7 linked regions of the Homo sapiens genome follow. The protein of the gene in region 5 purifies or fractionates together with the protein of the main gene of each other region. This does not show direct contact. Each region holds a gene or a part of one and is shown on either strand. Other genes may lie near its edges. The genes, in order: LYST, MKNK1, PLEKHG1, DMAC2L, MYH13, NIN and GARRE1.

What was found.
Region 1: the proteins of MYH13 (region 5) and LYST purify together in Homo sapiens (affinity purification with mass spectrometry; one large-scale study listed by BioGRID and IntAct). This does not show direct contact.
Region 2: the proteins of MYH13 (region 5) and MKNK1 purify together in Homo sapiens (affinity purification with mass spectrometry; one large-scale study listed by BioGRID and IntAct). This does not show direct contact.
Region 3: the proteins of MYH13 (region 5) and PLEKHG1 purify together in Homo sapiens (affinity purification with mass spectrometry; one large-scale study listed by BioGRID and IntAct). This does not show direct contact.
Region 4: the proteins of MYH13 (region 5) and DMAC2L purify together in Homo sapiens (affinity purification with mass spectrometry; one large-scale study listed by BioGRID and IntAct). This does not show direct contact.
Region 6: the proteins of MYH13 (region 5) and NIN purify together in Homo sapiens (affinity purification with mass spectrometry; one large-scale study listed by BioGRID and IntAct). This does not show direct contact.
Region 7: the proteins of MYH13 (region 5) and GARRE1 purify together in Homo sapiens (affinity purification with mass spectrometry; one large-scale study listed by BioGRID and IntAct). This does not show direct contact.

Annotation. Positions count from the first base shown.
Region 1 is NC_000001.11:235,660,907-235,664,406, forward strand, and holds the end of LYST (lysosomal-trafficking regulator), read right to left. Parts: intron 3,150-3,500; coding exon 3,078-3,149; intron 2,173-3,077; coding exon 2,034-2,172; 3' UTR 135-2,033; downstream 1-134. UniProt on the Homo sapiens protein: Adapter protein that regulates and/or fission of intracellular vesicles such as lysosomes. Might regulate trafficking of effectors involved in exocytosis.
Region 2 is NC_000001.11:46,594,269-46,597,768, forward strand, and holds part of MKNK1 (MAP kinase-interacting serine/threonine-protein kinase 1), read right to left. Parts: intron 13-3,500; 5' UTR 1-12. UniProt on the Homo sapiens protein: May play a role in the response to environmental stress and cytokines. Appears to regulate translation by phosphorylating EIF4E, thus increasing the affinity of this protein for the 7-methylguanosine-containing mRNA cap.
Region 3 is NC_000006.12:150,833,885-150,837,384, reverse strand, and holds part of PLEKHG1 (pleckstrin homology domain-containing family G member 1), read right to left. Parts: intron 1-3,500.
Region 4 is NC_000014.9:50,318,824-50,322,323, reverse strand, and holds part of DMAC2L (ATP synthase subunit s, mitochondrial isoform a precursor), read right to left. Parts: intron 1,762-3,500; exon of another isoform or gene 948-1,761; intron 842-947; coding exon of another isoform or gene 837-841; coding exon 730-836; intron 1-729. UniProt on the Homo sapiens protein: Involved in regulation of mitochondrial membrane ATP synthase. Necessary for H(+) conduction of ATP synthase. Facilitates energy-driven catalysis of ATP synthesis by blocking a proton leak through an alternative proton exit pathway.
Region 5 is NC_000017.11:10,370,207-10,374,133, forward strand, and holds the start of MYH13 (myosin-13), read right to left. Parts: upstream 2,801-3,927; 5' UTR 2,773-2,800; intron 1,054-2,772; 5' UTR 1,003-1,053; intron 1-1,002. UniProt on the Homo sapiens protein: Fast twitching myosin mediating the high-velocity and low-tension contractions of specific striated muscles.
Region 6 is NC_000014.9:50,761,663-50,765,162, reverse strand, and holds part of NIN (ninein), read left to right. Parts: intron 1-1,198; coding exon 1,199-1,337; intron 1,338-3,251; coding exon 3,252-3,373; intron 3,374-3,500. UniProt on the Homo sapiens protein: Centrosomal protein required in the positioning and anchorage of the microtubule minus-end in epithelial cells. May also act as a centrosome maturation factor.
Region 7 is NC_000019.10:34,253,077-34,257,353, reverse strand, and holds the start of GARRE1 (granule associated Rac and RHOG effector protein 1), read right to left. Parts: upstream 2,801-4,277; 5' UTR 2,740-2,800; intron 1-2,739. UniProt on the Homo sapiens protein: Acts as an effector of RAC1.

The sequences.
Region 1 (3,500 bases), on a different chromosome or scaffold from region 5:
AGAAAGTTATCTTTTTCTAGTGATATAAATGCATAGTGGAGCTAAAGACAGAACCTATGTGGGTTACACAGAAAGCCATCGATTTGAGATCTGCTCATAATATTTAAATAGCTTAAAGAAGAGGTGTTTACATCTATTTTTATGAAATTTATTTCCAAATTGAAGAGGCAGTGTATATAAAGGTAACAGAGCTTGTGATAATTTACAGAAATGTTTGCTACAACATGCACATTATGAAGTATTTCAAACATATACATATTAGGTTTCATGCTGAATAAATAATCCCCCCAAATTAATTTTTATTTTTACATAAAAATATAATATTGCACTCTTAACAAGACCAGTTATTCTGCATATTTTCTCTTTAGATAAATGATGAAATTCGGTTTTTAAAAAAAGATGAGTAGCAACCCTATTCTAATAGGGGACTAATTTAAAGTTCTCAGTAAAAAAATGAAAGCTAGACAATAGCTGCAATTTTTTGTTAACAAAGCAAATCACTTCAACGTGAATAGGAGTAATCTCATCTCTGCACCTCCATGGACCTCAGGATTCACACCTGGCCTGAGCACACGGTGATCTAAATGCAGCCTAGGTATCACTACATGTGTATGCAGTTTAAGGTTAAAGCATACATGGCCACGTGCTTTCTCTCGAATCTATCTTGACAGCAGAGACTTTGGAATTATATTTTATATGGTTTTTAAGCAGAATGTTTTAGAAAGTCTGGAAGTTACAAAAGTAGTACTGTAAACACCATATGAATTAAATTTCCATAACAAATGCACAAGTTATTCTTAGGCAGGGATACATATTTTTATCCCATGGTAACATATTACTGAGCTTATCTGACAGTGTTTTCAAAGCCAATAAAGCAGCACCCCAAGTAAAAATATACAGACAGCCATCATATGGGAGAGACAGACGGCTCCAAGATGTTTAGGAATTCTGTCTTTATGGTATGTAAGTTTGCTGTGGAATACACGAGATTTTATTATTCTTCCTAGAATTCTCAGATGGTATAGGTTAGTAGAAACAGAATGAAATGGTTTCCTAAAAGAATTATTCTGCCTCCTGTTTAAAGTAAGCTTTTATAATTCTGTTTTGGGGAAGAAAATTCTTCCTGCAGATTAGATCAAATGCCTTATTTAGGCTGTGTTCTTAATACCCATGCAAACTTCTTGCATACTGAAGGCTTTCTATTGCAAATTGGTACAGATTCAATGCTCTGTAAATAGCAGACTTTAAGACTTACCATTGTGTTTAAACCTCAGTGACTCAACTAAGGATAGTCAATATCTAGCGTTACAGATTTTAAGTAAAATTTTTATGAAGAAACAGAATGTGTCTGAAATCCAAGATACCTGTATTCTTGTTTGTGGCTGTCAAAAAAATTCTGGTTCTCCTTTGAGCTAAGAAAGCAACTGGCAAAAACTGCCTAATTTTGAGATTCATTCATAGTTTATTTTAGTATTTAGATATTCCATAAAATATTTGGTACAGAGGCACCTACTGAATAATTTGCTTCTCAAAGAAAGCAATTATCAAGTCCTAAAAATTATCTTTTTTTCTTTCCTCTTTTGGAGCATGTGTGTGTGGTGGGAGGAGTATTTCATGGCAGTAAACTTTTAAAATATAATTTTAGTGTGTTTTATATAAACAATCAACCAACCAATTTAAATTCTACTGGTCCTTTTGGAATCATAGAAAAAGGGGAGACCTTAATATTTTCTTTGGAATACCTTGGTGGGAAAAAATTTTAAGAATATCATTTTAATGTACCATGCGAGGCTTAAAACTTGTTGGCTAGTGCATATTGACACAATCTTCCAGATTATCACTAAAATAGAACAGAACTTTCCTCTTAGGATCATGTGACTCTTCAGAATTTTGTGCAGATGAATAGACTTTATCATTATTTGGATGGTTTGTCCAGTCATCCATTTCTTTAGGTTCAACCTCCTAAAACTGGTGAAGTCAACAAATCTAGTTTGGAGTTAAAGTGCTTTGGAGAACGTGAAGTTCATTCGCATTCACCCGGCTGCATAGCTGCTAAGGAAGGAATAGAACATTGGCTGTTTCAAGCGCTGCTGGTCCTTCCGACACCAGGCAATCACGGTCCCATCACTGTTTGCTGTGTACAAATGGTGGCCATCACAAGAAAATGTAAGGCTGTAAAAAAAAAAAAATTCCCATTTGTACATTATATTTCTTAAAAGTGTATTAGCATATTGGTCATCATACTGAGGTTAGTGTAAAGAAGTTATCTTCAGTGGCGCAGAGAGACATAAACTAAATGACTGCCTACAACTCATTGGTTTTGACTGTAATTCTAACATAGTCACTCTGCTGACAAGTTGAGATGCTCATAAATGCGGTGATATAGAATAAAATCAGGATCACAAAGCTCAGTACATTCTATTCTTTGCATATCTTCTTTTGCCTCCTTGTTTATGCTTTATTACATAAACAACAAATATTTGGGTGTACAAAACTTTTAAAAATATAACAGTACTATATTTTCTCCTTATAAAGATAAATAAGTATTTTATGGCTATATATTATTTCCCTAAAAGAGAAAAGGAAAAAAATGTAACATTAGTAATTAATTTAGGTTCCTTAAACTTTAAATTTAGTACACTGAAAATACATTTAATTTAATAAAGTAAAATTTGAATCACTTTATTTCTAATTATTTAAAGTCAAATTTGTTAACTAAGCAAAGAGTAACTGATTATTTATCTATTTTGTCAAGCACCCCTGCAGCTATCAATCACCATTATGGTCTTGTCAAATATGAAAGGAAAAAATACAGTCTCTATGATTCCAGAGACACACTACAAGCATGCCTTTCCACTAGACTCTGAGTCACTGACTCGGATTTTAAGCTCCATGAAGACAAGGAGTGTGGTCTCTCTTGCTGCTGGGTCACGGACAACCCGCTGTGTGTTAAGTGGTTGGCTTTTCATGATGACTTCAATTGCACATTTCTTTAAGTCTGTGTGCTTAAATACCTCTCTACGAAAAATACAATCACAAATTGTATTCTGAAGCATAAGAGGGGGAGAAGATCTTACCTGATGATGGGCTTATTTGATTTGGGAAATGTAATTTCTCTCACAGGCTTTAAGTCCCATGTGCTCCATAACCTAGAGGGGAAAAAAATCATCTAATTATGCAAACTAAAATTACTCTCCCTAAAAAGCCCTCTATATTTGTTTATTTGTTAAAAATCATGTGGAAGGAAATGTAACAAACAATTAACAGTAGTTCCCTCTAGGGAGTTTGCAGGGGGTAGATGTGGGAATAAGAGAACTTTTAACTTTGTATACTTCCATACTGTTAATCTTTTATAGTTAACATAAAACTTCAAAACTGTGCTAAAGCTATCTTTATTATTTAGAAATAAAACAGGAATAACTAAAGAACCTACACCCCAAGGTGAGTTTAAATCTCTAAATACTGAATATTAATATGCCTAGATATTAAAAATTAATTTC
Region 2 (3,500 bases), on a different chromosome or scaffold from region 5:
TGACATGGAAACCTTGAAAAAGCAGAAATAGAAAGGAAATCAAAATGCTGACTTCTTTAAAAGGACCAGAAAAGAGAAAGATCAATCTGAACGTGCCCCAAACCTATGAGTTACCCCACTAAGTAGATATACACGCAGCAATCACAGGTTTCCCATCTTTAAAATCAGACATTTGAATTAAATTTTTTGTAGAGATAGAGTCTTGTTATGTTGCCCAGGCTGGCCAAATTATTAGCAATGATTATTTGGGAAGGGGTGGCTTCTAATTCCTCTCTATCCCCACTGCCATTAAGCACTGGAAGATTTAACAAAGGTCTGAGTGAAATTTTTCAGATTCTGTTTCCATTATGGGATTCCAGACCCAAAAAGATGTAACTGGACCTGGATGATAGAGATAAGACACCTCTGCTCTGAGGAGTCTCAGGCAAAAGATAAAAGTTGACAGGCCAGGTGTGGTGGCTCATGCCTGTAATCTCAGCACTTTGGGAGGCTGAGGCAGGTGGATTGACTGAGCTCAGAAGTTCAAGACCAGCCTGGGCAACATGGTGAAACCCATCCCTACAAAAATACTAAAATTAGCCAGGCATGGTGGCACACACCTGTAGCTGCTTGGGAGGCTGAGGTGGGAGGATTGCTTGAGCCCAGGAGGTCGAGGCTGCAATGACCCAAGATCATGCCACTGCACTCCAACCTGGGTGACAGAGCGAGGCACTCCTCTGCTATCCACGTTTTTAGAGAAATGAGCTGGGCTCTCTCTCTTAGTGGCCAAGTCCAAGTCTCACAGGCAAGAGGAAACAGAGCCCGAAAGATAAAGTAGATGCTGAGAGCAGGAGGTGGCATGAATGGGAACAAGGTTTTGTGTCGAATACATAATTATTGCTAGTTTTCAATCTGATGACTTCATTTTCTCTATGTTCACTGTTATTTTAATACCATGGCTCTAGCTATACAAGTCAAAGTTGCTTTGTCAACTTCCCTATGAAATAAATATGCATTTCCCCTTTTCTCGGTGGAAAAGCCCTGAAAATGCAGTTTAACTCTGAATTCTGAGCCAAAATTTCTAAAAAGGCTTTCTAACTGGAAGTTGGGTGTGTTTCACCATGACCTCAAACCACATGCCCCAAGTGGGACTTGTGCCCAACCCCCACCCACTGCCTCCTTCCTCTGACTTCTCTTCTTCCCTATCAGATCACGTCATCCTGCCAGTTATTCCTCAAAGGCAAGCACTTACCTTTTTCATCTTTGCATTACCAGCATCTAACATAGTATCTGGCAAAAATGGGCTCTAGTGAATCTGAATGAATTACTTAATACACGAAATATCTCTTTAACATCCAATAAAGATGTTAGCACATTGGACAGTCCTTCCTACTATGCTCTTTATTCCCAAACAAATCTGAAACCCAGTAAAACTGTTTCCAGGGCCTAAGGAAACTCAGGGTATGCTCTCTTTCTTCACTTCTACTACCACACTTCCAGGGACAGCCTTGAACACCATCCAACGACAGGATCTGGCTCCATTAGCCAGGCTGGAGTGCAGTGGCATGATCTTGGCTCACTGCAGCCTCCACCTGCCAGGCTCAAGTGATCCTCCCACCTCAGCCTCCCAAGTAGCTGAAACTACAGGCACGAGCCACCACGCCTAATTTTTGTATTTTTTGTAGACACAGGGTCTCACCATGTTGCCCAGGCTGGTATTGAGCTCCTGAGCTCACGTGATTTGCCTGTCTCAGCCTCCCAAAGTGCTGGGATTATGGGCGTGAGCCACCACGCCTGGCCTTGAGCTTCCATTCTGTCTTTAGTCTTGTCATAGGTTTAGACCCCCACCTGGTCCCTTCTTGTTACCTATGGTAGGAGTTGGCAATTTTTTTTCTGTAAAGTGCCAGATGGTAAATATTTTAAGCTTTGTGTGTCACATGATCTTTGTTATGACTCAATTTTGCATTTGTAGAGAGAAAGCAGTAGACAATATGTAAATCAATGATTGTAGCTATATGTCAATAAAACTTTATTTTTGGACACTGAAATTTAAATTTCATAGATTTTCATGTGTCATAAAATATTGATCTTTTCTTGATTTCTCCCCAACCACATAAAAATGTAAAAAGTACATTAGTTTGCATCCACACTAAAACAGGCAGTGAGTCAAATATGGCCTGTGGGCCATACTTTGCCAACCCTTGGCCTACAGTAGAAAAAAAACCCCTCAGAATTCCTTATGGGCTTTGTGTTATTTTGCCACGTGGAGCCACCTTAGGCTGGGGAAGTAGAAAGCACAGGGCTTTTGGGCATTAGGTCCTAGGTTCCAGTTCTGGCCCTACCATCTACCAGCCGGGTAGCCTTGGACATAAAATTCAAACTCTCTGAGCTTTACTACCATCATCTATAAAATGGGGCAATAACACCTAGATCACAGAGTTGTCATGGCAATTAAGTGAGCTAATGTATATAGAGCTCGTGGCACCAGTATCTGGCATACAGTAGGCACTCAATAGTAACTCTTATTCCAGCTTCTGACATGGCTTCTCCAGATCAACTGCAGCTCTGGAAAGCAACCCAGCCAATCTGTGAACCACAGTTGGCCGCAGGAGGGAATAAACTGACAGCAAATACAAAGGCAGAGAGAGAATGTGGAGGTTTTCAGATACATGTCACAGGATTCTAAGTGCCTGGTTAGCCCTAATTCCTTCTGGCACCATTTAAAATTCCTCTGGTCCCTTTTTCCTCCTCAAAAATTACTTCTGACTCTCACAGTTCTTAAAGATTCTTAGCATTCTTTACCAACTACCCAGATGGACCCTGGAGCCCTCTCCTCATTCCTGTACCTCCTGCTGGTATAGGGCTGGGGTGGGGAAGGGTGACCATGGCCAGACCAAACCTACACAGATCCATCGGCCTGCAGCTGGGTCTTAAGTAGGCTGGGCCTGGCGAGGCACCCAATTCTCTCTCAATTGTTCATGAATTTCTTGCTGTACTGGGAATTAAATTTCTTCAGTGCTTAAGAACTAGACCTTCTACAGACGTTTTAGAGCAAAAAAAAAAAAAAAAATCACCATGTATACAAACAAAAGATCCATCACATTACTTTCAAGACAGAAAACATCAGTGAGGCACAGGTAAGGCTAAGGTTTATGGCATCTCTACCCTTGGTCCAAAAAGCCAGATCTCGACCTGTTACTTCCTTGCTCTAAAACTTCTAATGGGTGTCCACTGCCTCTGGAGTAACCAAGCTTCTGTGCTGTCACTCACGGCCTCCATCAACTTGTCCCAGACCAACCCTCTATGGGAGTCTTAACCTGCAGTCTCGTCAAAAGGGACTGTATTTCCACCTGATTGCTCTAACCAATTCCCAGCTTCCTACACTTGTGCATAATTAAATTACCTGTAACATTTTATTACGCATCTTCCCCTAGACTGTTAGCCAGGGACAGGGTAGAGACTATGTCTCCTTCATCTCTGGGACCCCTACACCTAGCAGAGGCTCTGGTATGGGGCAACCA
Region 3 (3,500 bases), on a different chromosome or scaffold from region 5:
CTTTGCTTAATCAAATCCTACTCATCTCTCAAGATTCTCCATAAGCCCTATCTTCTCCTTACTTGAATCCTTTTCTGATTTCTCTTCTCTGAAGTCTTACATAGTGTGTACCTAGCTGTTGCCTGTGTGTGCACACACACACACATGCAGACACACACAATTTGTATTGCTGTGTTGCTAATTATTTTATGTAGGTTACTTTATTTTCATTTTATGTTTTTTTGAGACAAAGTCTCACTCTGTTGCCCAGGCTGGAGTGCAGTGGCAGGATCTTGGCTCACTGCAACATCTACCTCCTGGGTTCAAGTGATTCTCCTGCCTCAGCCTTCCTAGTAGCTGGGACTACAGGCACCCACCACCACGCCTGGCTAATTTTTGTATTTATAGTAGAGACAGGGTTTTGCCATGTTAGCCAAGCTGGTCTCGAACTCCTGATCTCAAGTGATCCACCAGCCTTAGCCTCCCTAAGTGCTGGGATTACAGGTGTGAGTCACTGCACCTGGCCATTTTATGTAAGTTACTTTATTAGTCCCTGAGCTTTTCTTTTCTTTTTTTTTTTTTTGAGACAGGGTCTTATTCTGTTGGCCAGGCTAGAGTGGAATGGTACAATCATAACTCACTGCAGCCTCAGACTCCTGGGCTCAAATAATCCTCTTGCCTCAGCCTCCTGAGTACCTGGGACTATAGGCATGAGCCACTGTGCCTGGAAATTTTTAACTTTTAAATTTTTTGTAGAGAGAAAGTCTTGCTATGTTGCCCAGGCTGGTCACAAACTCCTGAGCTCAAGCAATCTTCCTGCTTTGGCCTCTCAAAGTGCTAGGATTACACGTGTGAGCCACCTCGCCTGGCCTCTGAGCTTTTGGTCTGGGAGAACAATGCTGTACATTTTGTTCAACTCCCTATAGAGGACCTAGCATGGTTTAGACAGAAAGTGGTCTCAATAACTAATTCATTACTCAGAATTTTTTTCACTCCCTTCTTTATTTTACTTATTTTTTAATCTTTTTGAGATGGAGTCTCACTCTGTTGCCCAGGCTGGAATGCAGTGGCGCAATCTCGGCTCTCTGCAACTTCCACTTCCCAGGTTCAAGCGATTCTGCTGCCTCAGCCTCCAGAGTAGCTGGGATTACAGGTGCCCGCCACCACGCTTGGCTAATTCTTTGTATTTTTAGTAGAGACGAGATTTCACCATGTTGACCAGGCTGGTCTTGAACTCCTGACCTCAAGTGATCTGCCCGCCTCAGCCTCCCAAAGTGCTGGGATTATAGATGTGAGCCACTGCACCCAGACTCCTTTCATTTTAAGCCTACTTTTAAAAAGGGATGCACTTTCCTGAGACCATACCACTGGGAGTGGAAAGGTGGCCTGGAAATCAGGTCATAAGCAGAAAAAGCAGAAGCAAGAAGACAGCTAAAATGCTTCCTATAGATAACTCATAATGGGAACAGTTTATCTTTGGATGATAGAGTTGACCATTTATCAATTTTGAATAAAAGGTATCTCACTAGTAGGCAATAGAGGTGTGAGTCACTGTGCCTGGCCATACAGGTGTGAGTCACTGCACCTGCTGATCTAAGGGGCTTTTTGTTTCAGCTTGACCTTCTAAGAGAGTCTATAGCTTGTGTGACATCTATGTGAACAAGAGACAAGCTTCCAGAGCTCCAGCTGTAATTAAACAGATTCTATTAGCCAGATGTACAGGGAACAGCCAGCCTGAGATGACACCTCTGGCCTAAAAAGCTTAGTATTAGTCAGCTGAGTTGAGGCTCCCCCATATCCTTAGTTCTAGTATTAACAGTTGTATAGAATATATACATTATGACTACATGACAATCGCAAGAATGTCTCTGGTTTATTGCCTTTTTTGAGATTTGAAAATTGGAGTTCTTATGATCTCAGACAAAAATTTAGAATAATGTTTGCCAAGGGAAATATCAAACAACATTTTAATCCTCCAGACAGAGGATTAAAATAAATGTTTCTGATGTTGCTCGAGATGCAGACAAAAGCATAAAATTGTGCCTTCCCTACTCTACACAAGGAGGAAAATTTCTCAAGCCTGTATGGAGTTTTCTCCCATGTGAAACATCACCAAAAAACCCAGAAACCCAAAGGCCTCCTTGCTCTCAAAGACTATCAGGAGGAAGGTCTGATGGAACAAGATGGCCAGCATGCTATGACAGGCTCTAAGATATGGGAGCAACTGGACCTGGTTGGGTGATTTATAGGCAGAAATCTGACCCAGGGCCTGGAGACCCCGGCTAGAGAGTTCAATAAAGATGCTCGAGAGTTTCGGCAGGTGAATAAGGTGCTCCTCCTTCCGCACAGCACCGAGAGCAAGCTCCTGGCAAAGCGGCAAGGCCCACACGGAGAAGTCTGGAGAATCGGTCCATTCGATTACGACGTCCTGTGCCCAGATAAACAAGAAAGAGAAAAGGAGTCATCATGTCAACTGACGGAAAGCCTAGTGGGCACAGGAAGTGGTCTCGATCACCCAGCTGGACGAGGTGTGGATATAACTCATCAGGTCCTAGGGACGTGCCTCTGCCAGATGGCAGGGAAGACAGCACTCTCAGAAGATGACTCGGGAGAGATTTCCTCCTCCTTGCTGGGGAGAACGTCGACAGGAGCCCACCATGTCAAGAAAGGACCCAGACGCAAAGCTGAGAAAAGATCCTGGGGCATCCCAAGACAACACCAGCAGGCAAAACAAAAAGGAGAGCCAACCAAAAGTGAAAAGAAAACCCCAATGTGAAATCATTTAATACTTAAAAAGGTGGGTAAAAAAGAAGACTACTCGAGGTAGTCGTAGGCCCTAATGATTCAGTATCAAAGGACATGCTTCTGTCAAGATTGGAGCTTTGTATTTTAACAGATGGTCCATATTCAAAACAACCTGGCCCAGGGAATTACTACTTTTTCAGTGGTAGTCTGTGGGCATAACCCATCATCATCAAAAACTTCAGCATTACATTTCCTCTTATGCTGAGGAGCCCCAACCCAGACTTAGTCAGTGCTTGCAATTGCCAATATACAACTGTTTCTAAGGCCATATATATTCCCCTACCCCACCAAAATTGTCCTCCTGCAGCGGGAACTCAGTCACTTTCCCTGTAACAGCAAACCAGCTTAGCAACGCTAGCATCAGAATAGGGACTTGAATTACTCATAGTGCATCATGGCAAGGAGAAAAATACATGCATTCTAGTCTCACATGCATACAAAACCTTCATTTGATTAAAAAGAAGAACTCAGAGTCTGTGAAATCCTTCAGGCATCAATTCCAGCACTTTGTTTCCCTATCTGTTAAGAAATTGTACTGAAGATTAAAACTTTAGACAATTCTTAAATACTCTCAAACTTAAAAAAAAAAGTTCCCTACAGATTCTTGTTATGTAACTTGTGCATTCATTTAAGATTTGGATATGCCCTTCCTATTCTTCAGTTTCCATGGATGTCAATGTCAATCCCAAAGACAGCATTTAATAGTTAGTGGCATC
Region 4 (3,500 bases), on a different chromosome or scaffold from region 5:
GACTTTTTTAGTTTTGTTTTTGTTTCCACGTGAACGCTGTCAAGGCGTATTATTTTTATATGAATTTATCAGACACAACGTTTCATTGATTCACATATAGTACAGTGCTTGACACCAGAGATACTTAGTAACTATTCTACGAATGACTATACTTGGTTAGAATTTGTATTAATAACAAAAGATTAAAGAGAAAATAATTCTGAATCTGTGGTCAAATTAATCTCATTAAGTGATATTTATTAATTTCTACATATGCTTTTTTCTCTAGCTAGTGATCATAATGCTGTATTAAGTAATTAGAAGGTTAGTTTCAAGTTTCAAAATGACATTTCTAAGTGTGCCACCCACTAATTTTTTGAAAACCCAAGTTACTTTGATAGAATTCAAAAGGTTAACTACATTCCTTTAAAAAGCCATAAAAATAAAATACTTTAAAATTATATTTAATAAGTTTTTCTGATTATAAAATGTTTTAGAAAACTTGAAATATATCAAAAGGACAAGTAAGAAAAATCATCGAAATCCTGCAACCCAAACAGCCACAATTAATATTTTGTAATCTGTTTTTCTGGTGTTTTTTCCATGTTTGTGTGGGTTTTGTTTGTTTGTAAACAAAATTAGGATCACACTGCACAAACTGTAAATATGAGAAATAGCCAAACAAGCTATTGGGAACTTATTTAGCTGTAACCATCTCCACATTTCTTCACTTTATTTAGAGTAACTTACTTATTAAACACTGCATTCAACCAGCCCCAGAAGTATCTGGAGTCACATGACCATGGGAGTTTCTTTACGCCACACAACTGCTGGGAAATTTTTCCAAACGGCATCATTTGATCTAGACACACAAAACAGTACTTACATTAGATCATCATCCGAGTCCCATACATATAGCAACTTACTTCAGAGTCAATGCTCTTGTACTGATAAAGCTGATGACTCACTTGCCACTCAACAATTACTGAGCAAGTCACTCCTGTTTCTTGTTCTTGGGGTTTTTTATTTGTTTGCTGCAAAAAAATGAGGGGTTGGACTGGATGGTGTCTAAGGCTCCTTCCGGCTAGAACGTTAAGTTCCACTGTTGAAACCTCAATTGGAGTCTGCCTGTCGTACTGCCATCTAGTGTCCATTCAGGCGCTGTAGCTATGAATTTGCTGAAGCTGGCTCCTCTATTCCCCATCTATATTTCCAGCATCAAAATGACAGACTAAAATCACCGAAAGAGCAACGTGTCAAGGTTAAGATGCTTGCATCCAGGAAAGAAGAGGAGACATGAAAATAGATCTACCTATGACAAGGCTGCAAGTGGTGTTACCAGAGCAGTGTAAACAAAAAAACTGTTTTAAGGGCAGCTGGGAAAGACTGGGCAAGTAACTTCACCTCTCTGACCTCTGGTTTTCTCATTTGTAAAATGAGATGATTTGCTTAATTTCCAGCTGTCAAAATGTATAACCATAATTTGAGAAAGTGATTCCTGGAGTAGGTTTCGATTTGATTGACCTCAATTCAAGTTTCCCTAGTAGTATGCTAGGTGTGTGCAGGGGACTGGATGTGGCAGGGAGGAGGAGATGGGGAGACAAAGATAAATGAAACATGGTGTTTGCTTTGAGCATCTGACAATTTAATGCAGGATGGAGTGGGCTAAGACACGTTATCAAGTAGTTAAAATAAGTGACAGAACTTGATAAATGCCTCAAAAGAGTTAAAATAAGGACAGAAAGGATTTCAACAAACAAAGGTGCCAGGAAAAATTATGCCAGATTATTAGCTGAAGCAGGAACATTTAAGGCATGTTATTTTCAGTTTCACTAGCACATGTGAGTCATGAGAAGAGGCAGGCAACTTGCACAGTCAGGTCGTGAAGTGTTTTGCATGCTCAGCCAGGGAATTTGGACTGTATTCTGTATGTAGCAGGGAGTCACCGAGGTTTCTGAACAAAGCACTGGCCCTTTGGGAGGCCGAGGCAGGCAGATCACGAGGTCAGGATATCGAGACGATCCTGGCTAACACGGTGAAACTCTGTCTCTACTAAAAATACCAAAAAATAAAAAAATAAAAAATTAGCCAGGCATGGTGGCATGCGCCTGTAGTCCCAGCTACTCGGGAGGCTGAGGCAGGAGAATCGCTTGAACCCGGGAGGCAGAGATTGCAGTAAGCTGAGATTGTACCAGACTGCACTCCAGCGTGGACAACAGAGTGAGACTCCATCTCAAAAATAAATAAATAAATAAAATAGAACAAAGCATTGGCATTGTTACGGTTGTGCTTCAAGAAATTGACTCAGCAGCATCAAGATTAAGGGTCAACAGAATGGGACAGCCAGTCAGCAAGGGCTTCAATCACATGAGGCCATACGAAAGGGCCTAGTTGGGGAAGGATGGGAATGACATTACATAGTTAGTTCCATATGACTCAGTTAAGTGAGATGTAGGGGCAAGGGCTAGAGGAGTTGAAAATGACACCAAGTTTTGGCCCTGGGTCACTGGTAGTAGGATGGTGATGCCATTAAAAGAAATCACATTAGGAGAACAGGGTTATAGGTTCAGATTTTTTTCTTTTAGTTTTTCATAATCTACATACTAAGTGTTAGCAGGATTTCTAAGTGCAGATGACCAACAAATCATTGGAATCAGAGGTCACAAAACATTAGAGCTGTAAGGAATTTAGATCACCTGGATGAAATCTCTCATTTAGAGGTGAGGAAACTGAAGCCCTGATATTAAGTAACTTCCTGACATCCTAAATCCTTTCTGAAACAAGGTGGGGTATTAATAAATGCATGTGTTTAAAGGGACTTGCTCAATGTTTCATGACTAATTGGTGGCAGTGTTGAAACCTGAACCCAGTTCTCTACCAGCCCAGGGTCCTTTCCTCAATCATTACATGGTTCTGGAATTCAAGAGAAAGAAGAGGACTAGAAAGATGCCTGAGAGGGAAACACCTTAAAGCTGAGGAAGTGATTGAGGATGCTGAGGCCGTGGAACAGTGAGAGATGTGAACTGAAGACAGAACCAACTACCCTTTCATCCCTTTTTCACTACAGCCGTCTTCATTACTGCAAGCCTCTGCTCCACTACCTCTTATCATGTTCTCAACCCTTTCCAACTTTTTGTTAAAGCGCTCTCTGCCTGTGCCCACCTTGAATAACTCTATTAGTTGTCAATCTTATTTACAAATATGGGCTTTCCCAGCTTCTACTCAGGCTGTTTTCTCTTAGCCTCCCTCCCCCATCACCATCAATCTGTGGAAATCCCACCCAACCTCAAGACCTTACTCAAATGCCATGTCCATTCATTCATTCGCTCAAAAAATGTTTATTGAATGTCTGCTATACTTAGTGCAAAGGCAACAATGGTAAGACAAAACAAACAAAAACAAGAACAAAGGAGAAAGAGACACACAGAAAGACAAGGTTCCTGACCTCATAGAACATATAATTTAATAAAGAGAGATAACATATAAAGAGATAAATAACACCCAACGTGGTTGGATAATAG
Region 5 (3,927 bases):
CTGCTGACGCACCACTCCGTGTCGAGCAAAGCCCCTCAATCCTCTCCGTGCATGCAGTTGCTAAGTCAGATCTTCTCCCTATATTTGTGCAACTGTGAGTTGGGACCCAGGGGAAGACCATTCATTTTTGACTGATAAACTTCACCTTGTTAGATCTGACCCAAGTCTCTAGGCATGACTCATGCTGCCCACTGAGCACCACCCTCTAGAGTTTCCTTAATTAGCCTCTTCTCTGTTCCAAGAGCAGGACCTGCTTCCAACGTTGCATAGCTGTGCCCCTTCAACCACTCTGTTCCTGTCTTTAAGGGCCTTCTAATTGAGATGACTACCCCCGCCTGCCTAATCTCCATCACCCACTTGTGAGGGCTCCTCTCTCTCTGTTTACCCTCTGTGTACCATGACACTACTCTCAACTTTCATCCCTCTCCTGGGAATTTCACCGCTACTGTGTCTTGTCAGCAATGATGTGCTCATGATTCAATGACAGCTTGGCTTTTTTGGTCCCAATTCATCTAGAACTACCTCTAATAAACACACGTTTTAAGGGGATAGGGTTTTTATTACCGCACCGGGCATAGGATTGAACGGATCCCTCCCCATTCCTTCAGTATTACACGTGAGGGAAGGTGCAGCTGTGTGGATTCATGGGTGCAGACTCTGCTCAAGGAGCAGCAAAGTTAGCCTTTGTGTGAAGACTGCATTTGGACCCTATGAACATCATGTTCTGTGCCAACTAAGTACTGTGTATTGACTTGGAGCTTGTATGTCAAAATTCTGCATTATATTTCGTACATTTCAGTGTAATGAGCAAATAGGAGAAGCCATTCTTCCTTTGGTAAAACCTGTATATATTTTAAAATCTACCTTTAAGAATAGTTAAGTTATTGGTTTCAAACTCATCAATTTCGTCTTCTTATGAGTGTGGCAAGAATGAGAACGTGTAAAATGATGTTTGCTAATTTCAATGATTGCATTCATGATCAAGCTGAAAATAACCCTTACCTTCTTGGTTCCCAAGTGACAGTCAGTGTCCTTCAGGAATAAAGCGTCTTCCTGGGGATAATTTGAGAAAAAAAAACAAACCAAAAAAACCCAAATGAGCTACAAAGAGTTTAAATAAATATAGAAACCATGTTTGTTCCAGTTTATCTACCTTAAATAGATACACAGTAGATGGTGTGGAATGAAATAAATTTGCTGTTTTGAATTTTTACTTTTGATTAAAATCATTATTCTTTAAATAGTTGGTTAATTACAACATTTAATTAATACTCTCTTGAGAAACTTCTGTGTGTACAATGTACTGTGTCAGCTCCTTAAGGGGGTATGAAGAGGAAAGTACAGTATCTGCCCTATAGGAATGCAAAAGTTAGTAAGGGATAAGAGAATGCTCAAGTAAGTCTTTGAACAGGATTAAGACAAATTTTTAAGGAGTCTAAACAAAGTACTATGGGAACTTAGAGAAACCGCTTCTGACTGGGGGGCTGTGAGGGGTCAGGGAAGAAAGAAAGTAGGGAGGGGAATGCTCCAGATTGCAGCTTGGATGCTTAGGGGCAGTCACCTTTTTTTGGCAATAGGAGAAAAGTTATAAATTGTGGACAAAGACTTCTTTATTCTCTTCAATGCTCTAAATTCCTCCTGCAGATGATGAAGGTAGGGCAGCTGAAAAGTCACCTGGGACTAAGGAATCTCAGCTCTAGGAGTTTATAAACTACGTGGCTATCTCAAGGAGGCATGAGTGTCTGAAAAATTTTCAATATCAAATGTAATCTAAGCAAACTTCCCAATTACCATTCAGTGCTTTTATGGAGCCAGGGGAATATTTCATGAAGCCCTATTTAGGCAGGAACAGACACTTAGGATTTGGTTTACTATCCTTGTTGCCTCCTTCCTTCTCCGTCTTTAATGCATCTTAAATAATCTCCAGTTATATCCTAAAATTCTCACAATTTCTTAAAAAATTAAAGTATTACATACTATATTCTGAATCCTCAATTTAAAAAAATATGGAGGCAGAGCTACAGAAATTCTAATATCAGTTCTGTTAAGTAGCTGGTATGATTTCTTTGGGTTTCTGTTTCCTTCCGTAAAATGAATCAGATGCACCAGAAAATCTCCAAGATTCCTTTCAGCCCTATGAGTCTATAACAGACAGTTCTCCGTAGAGATGGTGGCCTGAATTCAAAGTATCACAAATCTCTGAGGGATGCTATTGCACTGTCAGACACAGTCCAGTCCCAAGTCCATAAAATATGCCATGTGAGAACAGTCTGCAAACCAGTCAATTCATATCAGACTATGACACTTTGTAAGATGGGTAAGATGCTTGGGATTATTTCCTCCCACAACCATTTTTCAGAAATCCTGACATGGGAAACAAATTAAATAAACATAAAAATTTCAAATAATAGCTTAAGCAATCACAGAAGAGATACCACAAGTTACCAAGTTAATTTGCTAACTGAACAGTATAACATTGACCTAAATAATCAGAGGAGGAATCATGCATTATACTCAGTTTTGTTCTGCAGGTGAATATTTTTTGTCTTATAATTGCTTATATTCTTGTCTTTTCACCCCTTGTAAAAGTTTCTTGAAAGGCAGTTGTCTTGTCTTTCCATCTTGTCTCCAACCTTGCCCTCAACACAAGACCTTGCACTTAGTAGGCCCTCCGTAAAGGCTACTTTATTGTCTTCCCCCCTTGACTGGTAACCTGATCAGGTGCAACTATAGCTACGTGGAGCAAAAAAGTGAGCACTTGTGAGCACTTACCTAGAGATGCTGCGGTCACAGCAATTTCAGGAGTGTGACCCCCCAGCTCTCTTTATACTCCCAAATCTGCCAGCCCAGCACTCTAACTTGGCTATATTTGGGGGAGCACCATTTACTTGTTAGATGTAAATGCGTCGTAGCCCTGATCTCTCACTCTTGTTAAGTTACTTGGATAAATGACCAGTGGAGGCTGCATAATGCCAAGTCAGCTGCATAGGGATTTTGACGTTGGACACAGATCTTTGAGACTTAGAGAGTCCTAGGGGCTGAGTGGAACTGGAGCAGAGTGTGCTAAGAAGGTCACTGAAGGGCAGAACCACAGGATGCTTTGTCAAGCAATGGGTGATCAGTAGTGTGGACAGTAACTACACCTCATTTACCCAGCATTGGTATGGGATGGTGTGCTTCTCATCTCAGAAATCTCTGGAAATTTAAGGTTGACCTTTTAACACATCCAGTCTTATTTATGTATTTGTTTGTTTAAAAATCTACTGGAAGAAAAGCTTTCCAAAATGTATTTTACATTATCCTGCTCTGTGTAACCTACTATCTTGAATAGAATTTAAGTTTTTCTTGATCACTCTGGGGGTCTGGGAGATGATATAATAAAGTCATCAAGGATCTGGTTCTTAGTGGATCATGCCTGCACTAATTGTTCCTGCTGTGAATTTTGGTGTATACTTTTATTTATTATTATTATTATTATCGAAACAGAGTCTTGCTCTCTCCTCTAGGCTGGAGTGCAGTGGCGTGATCTTGGTTCGCTGCAAACTCCATTTCCCAGGTTCAAGCAATTCTCTTGTCTCAGCCTCCCAAGTAGTTGGGATTATAGGCATGTGCTATAATCCCATGTGTTATATATAGGCATGTGCTATAATCGCCCAGCTAATTTTTATATTTTTAGTAGAGACAGGGTTTCACCATGTTGGCCAGGGTGGTTTCGAACTCCTGACCTCAAGTGATCCTCCCGCCTCGGCCTCCCAAAATGCTGGGATTACAAGTGTGAGCCACCACACTTGGCCTTACTTTTTAGATTTTCTGTCTTTGCCTTCATGGCCAGCCTCTCAGGTATAATTTCTTTCTGTGGTAAGTTTGTCTTTACTAGCCTGATTTTGTATTATTGATTGGGAAAGAGATTACAAAATTAAGATCAGG
Region 6 (3,500 bases), on a different chromosome or scaffold from region 5:
TGGGTTCAAGCAGTTCTCCTGCCTCAGCCTCCCGAGTAGCTGGGATTGCAGGTGTCTGCCAAACGCCTAATTTTTTTTTTTTTTTTTTTTTTTTTTTTTAAGTAGAGACAGGGTTTCACCATGTTGGCCAGGCTGGTCTTGAACTCCTGACCTCAGGTGATCTGCCCACCCAGCCTCATCCACTTGTTTTCTTAACAGCTTTATACACTATATGTTTTACCCATTGAAGGTATAAATTCAGTCTTTTATTGTATTGACAGAATTGTGCAAACATCACCGCATTCAATTTTAGAACATTTTCATCACCCCAGGAAGAAACCCCTTCTCCACTTAGCCATAATCTCTCCCAAGCCCCCTAGCTCTAGGCAATTATTAGTGTACTTTGTGTCTCTACAGATTTGCATATTCTATACATTTCATATAAATGGAATCTTACAATATTAGCCCTTGAGACCGGCTTCCTTCATTTAACATAATGTTTTTAAAGTTCATCCATGTTGTAGCGTGTATCAGTTCTTCATTTCTTGAATAATATTCCATTGCGTAGATATACCACATTTTGTTTATTAATTCACCGGTTAAGGGACATTTGGGGGATTTTGGCTATTATGAGTAACGCAGCTATGAAAATTTGTGCGCACGTTTTTGTATGGGCATATATCTAGGAGTAGAATTGCTAGGTTGTATGGTAACCCTATGTTTAACCGTTTTAGGAACTGCTAAACTTCTTGCAAAGTGGTTGCACTGTTTTATATTCCCACTAGTATGATAGTTCCAATTGCTCCACTTCTTCACCAACAGTCGTTATTGTATGTCTTTTTGATTCTAGCCACCCTAGTAAGTGTGAAATGGTATCTTATTGTGGCTTTGATTTGTATTTCCCTGATAGGTAATGATATTGAATATCTTTTACATGTATGTATTAGTCATCTGTATATCATCATTAGAGAAATATCAATTCAGATCATTTGCCCATTTTTAAAATTGTCTTATTATTGAGCTATAATAGTCTTTATATATTCTAGTTACAAGTCCCTTATCAGATACTTAATTTGCAAAACATTTCTACTTTCTTGATAGTGTCCTTTGAAGCACAAAAGATTTTGTTTTGATGATATCCAATTTATCTTTTTTGTTGTTGTTGTTGCTTATGCTTTTGGTGTCACATCTAAGACCAGTGTTGGTTTTTAAATCCCAGGTACTACAAGACCAAGTAGATGAACTCCAGTCTGAGCTGGAAGAATATCGTGCACAAGGCAGAGTGCTCAGGCTTCCGTTGAAGAACTCACCGTCAGAAGAAGTTGAGGCTAACAGCGGTGGCATTGAGCCCGAACACGGTAAACACATTCGGACAGGCTGTAGATAAAGCCTTTACTCTTGTTTTTAGAAACGTGGTTCAATATAAAATTGCAAAGCTTTGGCAACTTGAAAAAAGAAAAAAAAAAAAAAGAATTTGGCCATACTCTTTTCTTGAGCTGTTTCACTTGTGGTCTCGTTTTTCATTTGTCCTTGAAGTTTTTATGAGAACATTTCCATCTGATTTTGATATGCGTCAACAAAGGAATGGAAGAATCAAACCACAAGGGTATTTGCTTTGTTAACAAAACAAACAAAAAACTGGCTGCAAATCTGGGAATCCAGGCCTTGGGAGTGTTAGAATTCAGACACTGAGCTATTGCTGTCCTCTTCGAAGAGAGTGTGTAACTCATATGAAGATGGTTTTGGAGAGCAGGCCAGCCAGATACTACAGAATCCATAGCTGGTTTTCTTATACGGGCTGTGCTGAATGTCTGTATTGCCTCAGCAGAACAAAGAAGATAAATAAGGGCTGGCCTCCTGGCCTTTGAGGAAGATTTTGAGTGGCAAGTTTGGAAGGCAGAGTTTGGGAGCCTCCTGCATTAACTATGAGCTCCTTTCCTCTCTCCTGATAGCCTACCTCTTTTCTCGGGGGTGTTGAGTTTAAATTTCAGAGACAGCTCATAATCAGTTATTCTGTTATAAATAACTTTCCCCAGTGCTATTGGGGATAGGAGTGTCGTTCTTACACAGGTTGTTTATTCCTCCTCTTACTGCAGAATAATTAACAGATTGGGGAAGGAGGAGACAAAGAGGCCTTAAGACCTCCCCTCTGATTCTTAGCTCATTCCAGTCTGAGGATCTCATAATATGATATATCTCGGCAGCTGTTATGGACTTTTCCATAGATGGCCAAGTGTTGGGGTTGTTCCTCATGAGGACAAGAAGCTGTACCATCGTGGTGTGGCTCACACCCTGGGTGTTACTTCTCATTTGGGAATATGCCATCAAATATGAAGAGAAGACCCAAAGCAAGACTGCCAGTTGCAGCTGCTAGACATATACCCAAGAAAAGTTCCTTTCTTCCATCTGCCTGTGTATCCCCACATGCAAAGCTATTTTGGGTCCCACTGCCTTAAGAGATTAGTCATAATCTTTTCTTCTGTGTACAAGCTCAGCCCCCAACTTATGCTTCACATTTTCAGTGTCATTCTCAGTCATCGTCGTGGGCAGTTGCAGAGATGAGCTCATGCATGAGTTAAGAATTTCTACCCACAACTGCCTGTATCCTGGTTCCTAACCTATGCCCTGTTTTTTAAAATTTTAGCTGATAATATGCTAAAATTATGCTGATAATAGCTAAAATATGATAATTTTAGCCAATAATAGCTGATAAGATAAAATGGGGATCTACCCACACTCTAGGAAATTCATAGGAAATAGGCAGTCTTCTGTAATGCTGAGTGATGGGTTGTTGATAGTGTGACCCATGAAGCTAACTCCTCAGGGCATCGCAGCAAGTATGCTGGCCGTTCATTTTCCTGCCACATCGTCATTCAGTATTTGTTGGATGGGTAGGAGTCTGGTTGGTTTGACCAAACTACCTCATGCTATTACCTCAATTTGCAGCATTTGCATTAGGAGGTAGCTACCTATAAGCAACAATTTCCACCCCCGCCGCCCCACCACCTACTATTCTAAGAGATGGATTCTATTAAGGTTTTTTCCACTGCCTGTACATGAAAGAATCTGTTCACCTTCATTTCTTCTTGTTTGCCCTAACGCTTGAAAAGAGAAAAGACTTCTCTTGGCCTCTGTTATTTCCTATTAGTTCACATCTCTGGTAATTCAGGCTGAAAATCATTCCTTAGTTAAACTGGATGTCCCTCCTCAGATGCCACACTGTGTTATTGAAAGAACCTGCTGCAGGATCAATGAGTCCCATGTGTTTTCAGGGCTCGGTTCTGAAGAATGCAATCCATTGAATATGAGCATTGAGGCAGAGCTGGTCATTGAACAGATGAAAGAACAACATCACAGGGACATATGTTGCCTCAGACTGGAGCTCGAAGATAAAGTAAGTCCTTCCCACCAATCCACTTCTCTAATTTCTTTTGGCTCTGACAGGCTTATGTGTGTAGGGCATTTCCAATTCTTTTTTCTCATAGAGCAGCACATTCTATGTTGGGAACCCACATCCTCAG
Region 7 (4,277 bases), on a different chromosome or scaffold from region 5:
AAAAAAAGAGAGTGGACACCCAACCCATGTGATATCCCAGCCTGCTAGCTTTCAGAAACAATTATTTCCTATAGACTTGGAAGACCCACTTGACACATGGATCCTGATGTATTAGGCTATAGGTTTTCAACAGAACAAACATTTACTAAAATTTTCACAGAATCATGTGCAATTTGCTTAAAAAAAAAAAAAAGGATGCTTAAAACATGGTCTTCCAAACATCTGGAGATAATTTTAGATTGAAAAATCTAGGCTTGCCAAGGGAATCTGAGAACTTTTCTATCTTGGTCTCCAATGCCAACCTACGTATTTGTGTGCAAAAATAGAGGAAGATTAGAATCTCAAATGCCACACTGAAAAGTTGCCACAACAAACCTGAACTCTTCATATGGAGTTTGTTATCTTGTCAGCAAGAAAGCAAATGAAACGGCAATAAACTAAACTTTTTGCTTTAAAAAGAAAAAAAAAATCTCAAACATGAAATATTCCCTGTACTTGTATTGGAAAATGATTTCTTTTTAAAACAAAATATTGTGAAGATACTGTGAAAAGAAAATACTGTGATTTTTAAAGACACTTGAAAACATCTAAGCACACACAAAATGTAAATATGAACTTTGTAAGTAGCCCTTACAAACATACACTTAGAACTTTTAGTCTAAAATATGATAAAATGATAAAGCTTACATATTATTCAATAAATCTGGAACTGACTAGCCATTTACAAAATATTTCATATTTTAAACCAAGAATGAATTTTAGGTAGACTAAAGGCAAAAAAATAAAACCATGAAACGATGAGACGCAAACATGAATTTCTTTTTTTTTTTTTTTGAGATGGAGTCTCACTCTGTTGCCCAGGCTGGAGCGCAGTGGCACGACCTCGGCTCACTGCAACCTTCGCCTCCTGGGCTCAAGCGATTCTCCTGCCTCAGCCTCCCAAGTAGCTGGGACTACAGGAGCGCGCCACCATGCTTGGCTAATGTGTTTTTTTGTATTTTTTTAGTTGAATCCGGGTTTCACCACGTTGGCCAGGCTGGTCTAGAACTCCTGACCTCAAGTGATCCGCCCGCCTCGGCCTCCCAAAGTGCTGGGATTACAGGCATGAGCCATCGCGCCAGGCTGGAATTTTTTTTTATGACAAAGAGACAGAAAAATTGTCCAAATATGTCAAAGGAAAACAAATACTATGTATTCTTAAAAATTGAACGTTACGGCCGGACACGGTGGCTCACGCCTATAATCCCAGCACTTTGGAACGCCGAGCCAGGCGGATCACCTGAGGTCAGGAGTTCGAGACCAACCTGGTCAACTGGGCGAAACCCTGTCTCTACTAAAAATACAAAAATTAGCCGGGCGTGGTGGGTGCCTGTAATCTCAGCTACTCGGGAGACTAAAGCAGGAGAATCGCTCGAACCCGGGAGGCTAAGGTTGCAGTTAATCTAGATCCCGCCACTGCACTCCAGCCTGGGTGACAGAGGGAGACTGTCTCAAAAAAAAACAAATAAAGTTACCTTTGACCCCATTTGTAAATTTATTCTAAGATAACAATCAGACCAGGTGTAATATCTCACACTTGTAATCCCAACACTTTGGAAGGCGAAGGCGTGAGGGTCGCTTGAGGCCAGAAGTTTTGAGACCAGCCTGGGCAACAGTCTCTTATTAAAAAAAAAAAAAAAAGACCATATCAAACAAATCCTTCCGGCAGAATTGTTTATCTTGTGACAAATTGGAAACTATCTCAATGCTCATCGGTGGTTAAATCACATACTGTAAAGTCCATAAAAATAACAATACCTATCTGTATTTATTGATTATCACCAAAATGTTAGCAGTGGTTGTCACTGAATGGTAGACTGGCAGATGACTGTCATTTTCTACCTTAAGACTTTTTGTGTCGTCTTGAGTGTTTTGCCAGGAAAGGAGAATTAACTGCTTTTATAATGGGGATGAGGGACCAGAACAAGGTATTTTCAAACTGGAGGCCCCCAAAGCTGAGTCTCTGGAAAATTTCTAAAAAGTCTAAACAAAATTCTTATCATGCCAACCAGGCACGCTTCTTTCCTCGCACCGCGCGGCGCAGAAAGACACACCCCTGACTCTGCGCTCGTCCCTCGGGCTCGGGTCCTCCACGCTCAGCCCCGGCCCTCCCGGTCCCCGCGGACCCTCCCCTCGGGCCCAATGCGCCAGCTGGCTCCGCAGGGCCGGAAAAGCGCGTTCCTCGGCAGCCTGGCGCCGCCGGGAAGGTGCGCGCAGCCCGCCCGGCAGCCCCGGGATGGCGTGAGGGCCGCCTCCCCGGCTAGCCCCAGCGGACCCCTGCCGCCAGCAGGCCGCCCTCCCTCCGCGGGCTTCCGGGAGCGGGTCCTGGCGCCAGCGCGACCTCCCGGGCCCCGGCGAACCGAGGGAGCGTCCCCTTTCCCCGCCTGACGGGCGCCGACCCGCCCCTGCGGTGCCGCGGCCGCCGAGTCTCCGACGCGCCCCCAGGTCCCGGGTTCGCGCCAGGAGGCCCCTCCGGGCTTCCGTCGGCCGGCCAGCGCCCGCAAAGCCCGGCGTCCTCCACAGCGGGCGGGCAAGGGGCGGGAGCCCACGGCCCCGCGCCCTGCGGCCCCGAGCGGAGCGGCGCCCCGCGGGCCCGTCTCGCCGTCTGCCCTGGCTGCGGCCCGCGGCCCCGCTGCCCACCGCCCACCGCCCGACCCCGCCCGCCAGCCCCCGCCTGCGCCCGCCGCGCCCGCTCCTCACCTGCGACGCGCCCCGGCCCCCAGCGCACCGCCTTGGACCGGCTGTGTACACCGGAAGTTACGTCTCCGGTCCGGCCCCGCCCCCGCCTCGGGCGGACGCGGGGAGGTTGCGGATCCCGCGCCTAGAGCGGACTCTCCTCTCGCATTAGAGGGGAGGGGGCGCCCCGGAGCCTCCTCTCCTGGGACCCTGGGCCCCCAAGCGGGACGGCCGGGGCGGAGGTTGAGGACTGGCGGCCAGAGCCGGAGGTCCACCCAGATCCCCCACCATGGCTTGGCCCCCGGGCGGGAGGGGTCGGGCTGCGTCCTCCTGGATTTATTACTGAAATTGACTGAAATCGATTACTGGCGTATGGAGTGTTTCCTAGATGCCAGGCCCCGACGGGCACTGCAGGAACGGGTAGTGCTCTCTCCCTCATAAGTTTATTCCTTAGTGGTAAATACACAATACCATTGTCACATATCCGGGTGATAATATAGTACCAATGGTGACAAGTGGTAGGAGGGGAAAGAGTAAGAGGGAGGGAGAGAGTACCCTGACCTAGTAAAGGAGAGTGATCCGGAATTCCCCCAGGGAAAGAGCAGGAGCTGAGGTCCTAAGGGGTAGAAGGGAGAAAAAAAAAAAAAAAAACGAGAAGGGAGGAGAACACATTACGCAGAAGCAGCAGCAAGGGTCTTCCAGTTCTGTGGGTTTTGTTTGTTTGAGACGGAGTCTTGCTCTATCGCCCAGGCTGGAGTGCAGTGACGTGATCTTGGCTCGCTGCAACCTCCACCTCCCGGGTTCAAGTGATTCTCCTGCCTCAGCCTCCCGGATAGCTGCGATTACAAGCGTGCGCCACCACGCCCGGCTAATTTTTGTGTTATTAGTAGAGACGGGATTTCCCCATGTTGGCCACGCTGGTCTCAAACTCCTGACCTCAGGTGTTCCGCCCACCTCGGCCTCCCAAAGTGCTTGAGCCACGGAGCATGGCCCAGTTTTGTGTTCCAATAATAAATCAGAGTGGTGAGAAGTTAGGTCTTACTTGACAGTGTTGCAAAACTAATGAGTTTTAAGCAAGAGGTGATTTGTCCATACTTGAGAGTGTAAAGGGGTTACTCTAGATGCAGTGTGGAGAAGGAAGGACTACGGAGGGGAGGCAAGAGTGGATATAAATGTGTACACCCATGTTCATATTAGTCAGAAGGTGGAAGCAACCCAATGTCCATCCACGGGTGAATGGGTTCACAAAATGTGGTATAAACATAACAATAGAATATTACTCAGCGTTGAAGGAGGCCGGGCGCCGTGGCTTACGCCTGTAATCCCAGCACTTTGGGAGGCCAAGGCGCGTGGATCACCTGAGGTCAGGAGTTCGAGACCAGCCTGACCAACATGATGAAACCCCGTCTCTACTAAAAATACAAAATCAGCCAGGCGTGGTGGCGCATGCCTATAATCCCAGCTACGATGCAAATAGATGAGCTTTGAAGATATTATGCCAAAAGAAACCAGTCACAAAGACAAATATCCTATGATTCCACTTACATAAGGTACCTAGAGTA